Linked DNA regions of Homo sapiens: regions 1 and 3 are each linked to region 2. Evidence: fine-mapped expression QTL. A gene starts in region 2. Each other region holds a variant in brackets. All regions are shown on one strand. Distances are from middle to middle. Region 1 overlaps MMP15 (matrix metallopeptidase 15). Region 2 holds the start of ZNF319 (zinc finger protein 319). Region 3 overlaps CNGB1 (cyclic nucleotide gated channel subunit beta 1).

Region 1 (2,793 bases), 30 kb before region 2:
CTTGGGTGGCTGGACAGATGGGGGCAAGGCTGGGTGGGCCGGGGGAGGGCTTTTGGCTCACACAGCTCAGGCAGCCCTGGCTCCACCTCAGAAACCTCTTTCCCACCTGGATCGGGCCCAGCAGAATTCTGCCTGGTGGAATTTCCACAGGATGGCACCCTAGGCTCTGACCTGTAGCCTTCAACCCCGCATGGGGGTTGGGAACTTGGGCTCCAGGCCAGACTGAGCTGGGTTCAAATCCAAGCTCTGCCACTCCCTGGCTATGGAATGCGGGGGTCATTTCTCTCAACTCACAGTATTAGTTTCCTCTTTTGTAGATTGAGTAATGACAGCATCTACACTTGAAGAGTTAATACAAGGATTAAATGTGAAAACGCTTACAAAACATCCCTAGTCTGTGTCCACAACAGACACAAGTATGTTGAAGGTGCTCAAAAATAACACCTGCGCCTCCTTAGGCCCCCTGTGCCAGGCATTGTGCATAGCGTTTAGTGTTTTGCACATAAATGCAATGAATCTCCCCGTAACTCCATCAAGCAGATAGACCATTGCTATTCCCTTTTTATAGAGATCTTGAAGTTCATACAGATTCAGTGACTTGCCCAACAGTAAATGCCATTCGCTTCTGTCACTGTTTTGCACTATTTTGCCAGGGAGGCTCTGGACACAGGGTGTAGGCCACCGTGTTGTGCACTATGTATCAAGTGCCATGCTCAGAAACGCTGAACGTGGAGCTGGACTCTCACCCCTACAGGGTGACAGTCACTCCTAGGGGAAGGACAAGGCAGTGCCAGTGCCAGTGCCCTGGAGAGGTGATCTAGACCTTGGCCTGCATCACCATCGGCCGATGGCAGCAGGATGGGGGGCATCTCCAGGGGCTGGCTAATGGCTGGTACCAGGGGCTTATCCACCTGTCCTGATACTGGAGGCTGAGTTGGGTCTCTTCCCACTTTTTCTTCCATTCCCACGAGGGCCATGGGATTAGGGAAGAGGCATCCCTCTTTGCCTCTGGGATCCAGGCCCAGCTCCATGGCCTCTGGTCTCAGGAATCCCTGGAACCTGTGTCTGACTGTGGAGCAGCCCTATCTGAGCCGTCACTCAGAGCTGTCCAGCCAGATGGTGCCTACTGTGTCTCAGGTCTGGAGCATTCAGCCGCCTTCAGGGTCCCGGTCCTCACACTCAATGGTGGGCTTCTCCCAGGACCCGCTTTGTAAAGGAGAAAGATAAGGGCAGAGTCCACAACCCCTCTCTGTCTTTGCTGACTCAGAAAACACATCTCCAGGACCAAAGCATTGCTCCTGCTGGAGTGTCCAAGACAGGGAGCCACCTAAGCCTTGGGATGATATGGAGGATACCCATTCTGATTTGATCTGGAAAGTAGTGGTTCTCATAGTGACCACCACAGCTAGCCTGAGGCAGAGGTCAAACTCCCAGCAGGGCAGAGGTGATGATGGAAGGGATCATCTGGACCAAACAACAAAAGGGCCACAGAGGGACAGCAGAACAAACCGCTCGGCAGGGAGGGGCTTTTCCACGCCTGCAGTGTAGCCATCCTGAATGGGCATAAGAGATAGCAGTGGGCACTGGGCTTTTGGGGAAAGTCTTCTTTTGGGGGTGGGGATAGCGTGTATTTCCATGTTGCTCCTCTCCACATTCATGGATATCTTTTAAGTATCAACATCCCTTGGGGTGGGGCAAAGGAGGTATTTATGTTCAGAGGTCACAATGGGAAGGTCAGGCCAATACACTGCTCAGACAAGGAGCTTACACTGGGCTGTTCTCTGCAAGGAGACAGATGACTGGCTGGACCCAAGGGCAG[C/A]CCCAACTCGGAAACATGGCAAGGGCTGGGTGTGAAGGGCATGGCCCAATGAGATCTAGGTCCCTGGCTGTGCCAATCAGACCAGTTCTCTCTGGGTCTTGACAGAGCATGGAGAGGAGTGATTTACTACTAGCAAGAAAACAGAGTAAAAAGCAGAGACAAGAGGGGAGGGGGAGAAGATTCAGCTTCTGCAGATTCCCAATGACAAGGCCCCGCTATTAACTCCCTTTTCTTAGCTGGTGGGCACAGATGGCATCTGTAGTTTTGCTCTGTTTAAAAGAAAGAGGGGACCAGTGGGGCCCCCCCGGAGCCAGCATGGAAGTGCTAGTAGAGACTGAAGCTAAGGAAGCCCAAGACTGTGGCTCACCTGAAGGTCAAAATGGTAATTCACGCTGACCCCCTCCCAACGCCCCCACCCCCGCTGCCTCATCTACTCAGTGGCTGGGTAGGGGCTAGGAAGATACTCGTGGGCCTGTTGAGGAAAGGCGGGTGGATCGGTTTTGGTGGTGGTGGCACCACCCCTGTGAACTCTGGCAGCCTGAGTCACCTCCACAGAGCAGGCTGAGGACCTGAATTGTGCCTGGGAGGAGGGGGTAGGGGGAGGCAGGTGAGATAAGAGCTCCCCCGGTGAGCCTGGAGACTCTCAGCCCTGCAGGGCAGGAACAACAGTGAGCACCTCAGCCAGGTGGGGATCTGGCCCGGAATGGCTACAGACTGGGATTGGACATCCAAGGGAGAATGTGGGATAGGACGTGGCAGCTCAGTGGTGGGCTAGGGCCTGGCAGGTTGCAGGTGTTTGTCAGTTCCTAGCACATGCCAGGCTCCTTGATGTCTCAGCCTCGTGAAAGTCCTGTGGCTTCCACCCTGGGAGGGGAGAGAGGAAGTGGAGAGAGGCTGGCCTTGGCTCAGCTGCCAAGCTGCTCCGAGAAGGTCCCAGCTGTGACCCTACTGGAGGCCTGAGGCTGTGTGGATGC
Region 2 (2,841 bases):
AGTATTACTATCGCAATTGTATTCAAATCAGGAAACGGACCTAGGATGGTACAGGGATGTGTGCCAGGCGATAGAGTGGGCCAGCGCGAGGCTGGACCCGAACCCAGGTCTGGCCTCCCAACTTGGCCCTAGCCAGGTGGGGCCACTCTGGAGCTTTGTCTGGGGTGGGGGGGAGGGGTATATCTTCTGGATCCTCCTTTCTTCCTGCGTCCCCTTTTCCTTCCCAGAGCCGCCCCGCATCCTCCCTCCCCACTCCACCCCCAGACATTCGGGTCCCGTCTGGCTCTAGGGTGAATGCGCGCGCCCTCCGGAGAGACTTCCTCACTCCTCACCGACGGTGGCTCCCATCCCCCGGCCTGGTCCGCATCCCGTCCTCGGACTCATCCTCGGAGCCGCTGCTGCTGTAGCCCACCAGGGGCGCCGCGCTCATGGGGCCTCATCCAAGACCACCAGAGCAGGTCCACCAGCAACCTCAACCGGCACCCGGAGTTCCGCTGTGCCGGAAGCGCCCTCCCAGGGGCGGGGCCTGGGCTGGCACCGCCTCGGGGCGGAGCCGGGAGGGGCGGAACCCGGCAGGACAGTGGTGAAGATTCAGCCCACCGACTCCAAGCTGTCTGCCGGCTGCGCACGCGGATCTGGTCACCTGCAGCCTCCCGGCACCCCGCTGGGACCTCCCCAGCCTTCGTGTACCCATTTCATATATCGCTCAGGGCCCTCACCTTTCTGCCCGCTGCTGTCTGCAGCCACCCGGGACCAGACATACCAGACACGACAGTCCCGGGTCAGCGCACTAGACCCAGCGGAGACCCCTGCCTGCCCCGAGCCCGGCCAGGATCAGAGGTCCTGGAGCCCCCTCCTCAAACCAGCCCAAAGTCCAAGCCCCTAAAAGCCAAGCTGAGCAGTTAGGGGCGGATCAATTGTGGCAGACCAGAGCCTCTAGGAGGCCCCTCCTCTCCTGCGCAGAGCCGGGCCGAGGGCGGTCACCCGGAGCCCCCTCCCCTAAGCCCGAGCGGGGTGGCCGGAAGCAGAGCGCCCTTCCTCGGTTAGTCGAGGCGCCCAGGCCTGGCGACTCGAAAACCGCCCGGAGCACCCGGCTTGTCCGACCTGGCCCGGCCACGGGGTCCCCGGCAGGGGGCGGCCTCGCTCCGCGCCGCCCGCTCCTCCCGCATTGGCCGCCGCCGCCCGGGATGCCGCTCCTCCCCCGGCCCCGCCTCCCTGGCCCCCGCGCCGCCCGCCCGTCCGCCCGTCTCCGCAAGGCCATCGGTCCGTCCGCCCGCCCTCCCGGCGCTCCTCGCCCCGGCCCCGCTACTCCGGCAGCGCGCGTCGCTTCCTCCGTTCCGGCCGCCGCTAGCCCGTCCCCCGCCCCCGGTCCGGCCGCAGCCGCTACGCGAGGCCGGGGATTGGCAGCGCGCGTAGGCCGCGCCGCCGCGGATGGAGCCGGAATAAAGGGGCGGCCGAGAGAGCAGCTGGTCGCCGCTCGCCCCGCGCCTGCCCTGCAGGCGGCCTGGAGCAGGTGAGCGGCGGGGCGCCCGGGGCCGCATCTGGGGGCCACCCCCGCGCCCGCCGCACCCCTTCCTCTGCCGGCCCGGCCGCCCCCCCGCGCCCCTCCGCCGCGACCTAGCGGCCTCTTGAGCTTCTGGGCGGCCCAGGCCGGGCCTCGAGGCGCAGCCGCTTCCTGGGCCCGGCCTGTAGCCCTGGGGCCTTTCTCCAGCCCGGCCGCCCTCGGGGCTCGCCCTCGGGTCGCAGCGGCCGGGCCATCCCGGACGAGGGCTGACAGGACGCAGCCCAGCTGGGCCTGCAGGCAGGGCCGGCGGGAGGTGATCGGCTTTCATTCGGTTTCTCAGGGAGGAAGAAGAGACGGGGTGGGGCGCAGGTGGGGGGCCTCCCCTGCCTCTCCTTGCCTCCTCTCTCCCCTTTGCGGAGTGATCACAGAGGCTTCCTGGCTGCACCTTGCTGCAGGAGGGCCAGGGTGGGCAGGGGGTGCTGCAGACCAAGCCAGGGGACACTGTCTGACAGCCATTCATGCCAGAAAAAGCAAACAAAACAGTGGGTTGGCACAGCGGACCTACAGGCGCTCAGAGAAGCCCACCTTCCCCCTCTCTGTCCCGAGAAGGCTTAGAGTGGTACCTGCTTGCTCAAGCAACCTGCTGCCTCCACCCAGAGCAGCCGCTCCTCTCCTCCCTCCCTTCCGGAAGATGCTGAGGATGACAGCTTTTAGCCTGACTCTTACATTTCTTTGGCAGAGCAGTTAGAGGCCAGACTGTCCTGTGAAGGCTTCTCCTTCCTTCTTCCTCTGCTCAGGAGAAAACTTACAAACTTTTAAATGTAAGAGGCAGATGAGCTGGGAACCTGGAAGTGGGTTGCATCTGACTCTGAAAGTTCCTCCCTCTCGCTGGCATTACCTCATGCTGCCACAAAGTGGTGAGTTAGAGATTTGCCTGGGCTGGGTGGGCTTTACCTTCCAACAATTACCCAGAACTTTATAGGCTTGGAGTAAGGGAATGGAGTTGTCTCTAGAGAGGTGATGAGAAATGCTCTGTGGTTAGCATGCTGCATCCTGCATTGCCAAGGCAGACCAGGGCAGTTTCTTACATTTTCCTGCAGGCCTTGACACTATGAGATTCAGAGGATTTAGGACTTTGTGTGTGTGTGTGTGTGTGTGTGTGTGTGTGTGAGTTCTGGGAGAGAACCAGAGTGAGGAAGTTCTGCTGTGTGGACATCAAGCCTGGGTGGTTCTGTGGCCCTCTCATCTAGCCCCCATCACCTATGGGCTCTGGTTCCTGTAGGGCCACCCATCCTGTCACGCGGAGAGAGAATGGGCCTGTGGTCAGGGATAGTTGA
Region 3 (2,500 bases), 110 kb after region 2:
GGCTTCCCAGAGTTGCTGGGATTACAGGTGTGAGCCACCGTGCCCTGCCACCACATATTAGAATTCATTCTAATATTCTCCCTTTTCATACTTGTAAATCTCTTCTCCAACACTGAGCAATACAGGGAAGTTCATTTCAGAATTTCCAGCCCATGTCACTGTAAAAACAAAAAGTAAGGCTTCTAGGTAGAGTTCAGTACTGGATGCAGTTCTTTTGTGTTTAGCCCGAGTATATATGATGGAAGTGTTACGTTCAAAGTTATCTGGAGTCGTTCTCTTCCTCCACTACCCTTTAATGTGGTTACTTTATTCATTTGAAATACAGGTAGGTTCACTTGTTTCAGTTTACATTCCATTTAGGGCTCCTGCCACCCTGATCTTTGTTGACTTTTTCTTGTTTTCAGTATGTAGAACATTAACATGTTCCTGAAGGTCAACACTCTGCAAAATGGGGCACTCAGAAAAGCGTCCCAACTCTCCCTGTCCCCATTGCCCCCTGACTGCAACTCCCATTATTACGTGGCTCGTTGCATCAATTTCTGCCTTTTCTTTCCTCTGCTTACTTTTGCGAAAATGGACAAGTCCACAGACATTTTCTTTTTTTCTTTTTTGAGATGAAGTCTCATTCTGTAGCCTGGGCTGGAGTGCAGTGGTTAGGTCTTGGCTCACTGCAACCTCCACCTCCCGGGTTCAGGTGATTCTCCTGCCTCAGCCTCCTGAGTAGCTGGGATTACAGGCATCTGCCACCATTCCCAGCTAATTTTTGTATTTTTAGTAGAGATGGGGCTTTGCCACGTTGGCCAGGCTTGTCTCGAACTTCTCACCTCAGGTGATCTGCCCGCTTCTGCCTCCCAAAATTCTGGGATTACAGGTGTGAGCCACCACACCCAGCCCAAACATTTTCTTATTTCTTCTTCTTTCTTACACAAAATATGGCATGCTGTAGATTCTTGTACTTTGCTTTGTTTCCACATGACGACAAAACC[C/T]GGAAATCATTGTCTATCAGTGCAGAGTCAGCTTCCTCATTCCTTTCCACAGTGGCAGAACATTCCTGTAAATGGACATTTAGGGTATTTCCACAATTTTGCAATTACAAACAGTGGTGCAACGAATAACCGTGTGCATCCGTATTTTGCATTGTTGGGGAACAGGTCATTCTTTTTAGAAAAGCCGGTTTTTGTTTTCAAACCCTTAAGATCAGGTTTCAAATTGAGCGACAGGCAACGTAGTGTGTCAGGAACCCCACAATAGGTCTGGGAGGCTGGCGGGGCTCAGATCCCTTCCATGTGAGGTGCTGGCTGTGTGACTTTGAGGAAGTTGTTTAACTTTTCTGGTCTCAGTTGTCTCCTATGTAAAATAAAGGTCATAACCCCTACTTTGCTGCTGTAAATTTTTTTTGTTTTTTTGAGATGGAGTCTTGCTTTGTCGCCAAGGCTGGAGTGCAGTGGCGCAATCCTGGCTCACTGTAACCTCTGCCTCCTGGGTTCAAACAATTCGATTCTCCTGCCTCAGCCACCCCAATAGCTGGGACTACTGCAGGCACATGCCACCACACCCGGCTAATTTTTGTATTTTAAGTAGAGACGGGGTTTCACCATGTTGACCAGGCTGGTCTGGGACTTCTGACCTCAGGCGATCTGCCCGCCTTGGCCTCCCAAAGTGCTGGGATTACAGGTGTGAGCCACTGTGCCTGGCCTGCTGCTGTGAAAATTAAATAGTGTGCAGGAATGTCTCCGGTGGGGTGCCTGTCATACAAGAGAGCTCAGTGCATGTTAATAAGGATCACTTCAGGCCGGGCGCAATGCTGCATGATTGTAATCCCAGCACTTTAGGAGGCTGAGGCGGGAGGATCATTTCAGCCCAAATATTTAAGGTTACAGTGAGTTATGATCGTGCCACTGCACTCCAGCCTGGGTGACAGAGCAAGACCCTGTCTCTCAGATAAATAAGCAATTGTTCCTCTGTAGCCATCAAATTCACCCTATAATTTTTCAGTTGGGTAAAACCTTTTTAATCCACATATCTGGGTTTTCCTCCTTGTCTTGTATCACACATTCTTATTTTCCCCTTCATTCTATACAATGACACCATAAATAAACTGCACAGAGAGCTGTCATAATAGAGGGAAGAAACTCACCAGCATCCATTCCTACAGCACAGTGATGTATCGAGTACACAGTGCTGAGTTCTGGGGACACAGGAGGGACCAAACAAAACTCACATTCTAGTCAGGGAACCGGCAATGGAAAGATGAGCGATGATGTGATGCGTCTGGCTACGAGGAAACACAAAGCCACGGGAGGAGCGGGAAGTGACGGAGAGCTGTCTGAGATAAGCTGGTTGGGGAAGCTGCTCTGAGCAGGTGGCATTTCAACGAGACCTGCACAAAGCAAAGGAGTGAGCTGGGGGACTGATGGCTGGGTACAGCATTCTGGGAAGAGGGAACAGCATGTGCAGAGGCCCTGGGGAGGAGCAGGCTTAGTGTGTGGGTGGCACAACA

Evidence for each region. PIP is the estimated chance that this variant, and not a neighbour inherited with it, causes the effect.
Region 1: its variant is fine-mapped to the expression of ZNF319 in whole blood (INTERVAL, PIP 0.97).
Region 3: its variant is fine-mapped to the expression of ZNF319 in whole blood (TOPMed, PIP above 0.99).

Annotation. Positions count from the first base shown.
Region 1 is chr16:58,028,636-58,031,428 of GRCh38, reverse strand. The region is part of intron 1 of MMP15 (matrix metallopeptidase 15); the gene reads right to left. Among named protein-coding and RNA genes, the nearest start is that of MMP15, 4.3 kb to the right of the region's middle. The variant C/A (reference allele first, on the strand shown) is at 1,820.
Region 2 is chr16:57,999,073-58,001,913 of GRCh38, reverse strand. ZNF319 (zinc finger protein 319) reads left to right here and starts at 1,242. Exons shown (of 2, transcript NM_020807.3): 1 at 1,242-2,421. USB1 (U6 snRNA biogenesis phosphodiesterase 1) reads right to left here and starts at 507. Exons shown (of 7, transcript NM_024598.4): 1 at 333-507. The coding sequence starts at 430. RefSeq lists enhancers at 269-368, 395-689, 862-1,031, 1,889-2,158 and silencers at 449-698, 989-1,588, 1,639-1,768.
Region 3 is chr16:57,892,712-57,895,211 of GRCh38, reverse strand. All of the region lies in intron 31 of CNGB1 (cyclic nucleotide gated channel subunit beta 1), which reads left to right. Among named protein-coding and RNA genes, the nearest start is that of CNGB1, 77 kb to the left of the region's middle. The variant C/T (reference allele first, on the strand shown) is at 987.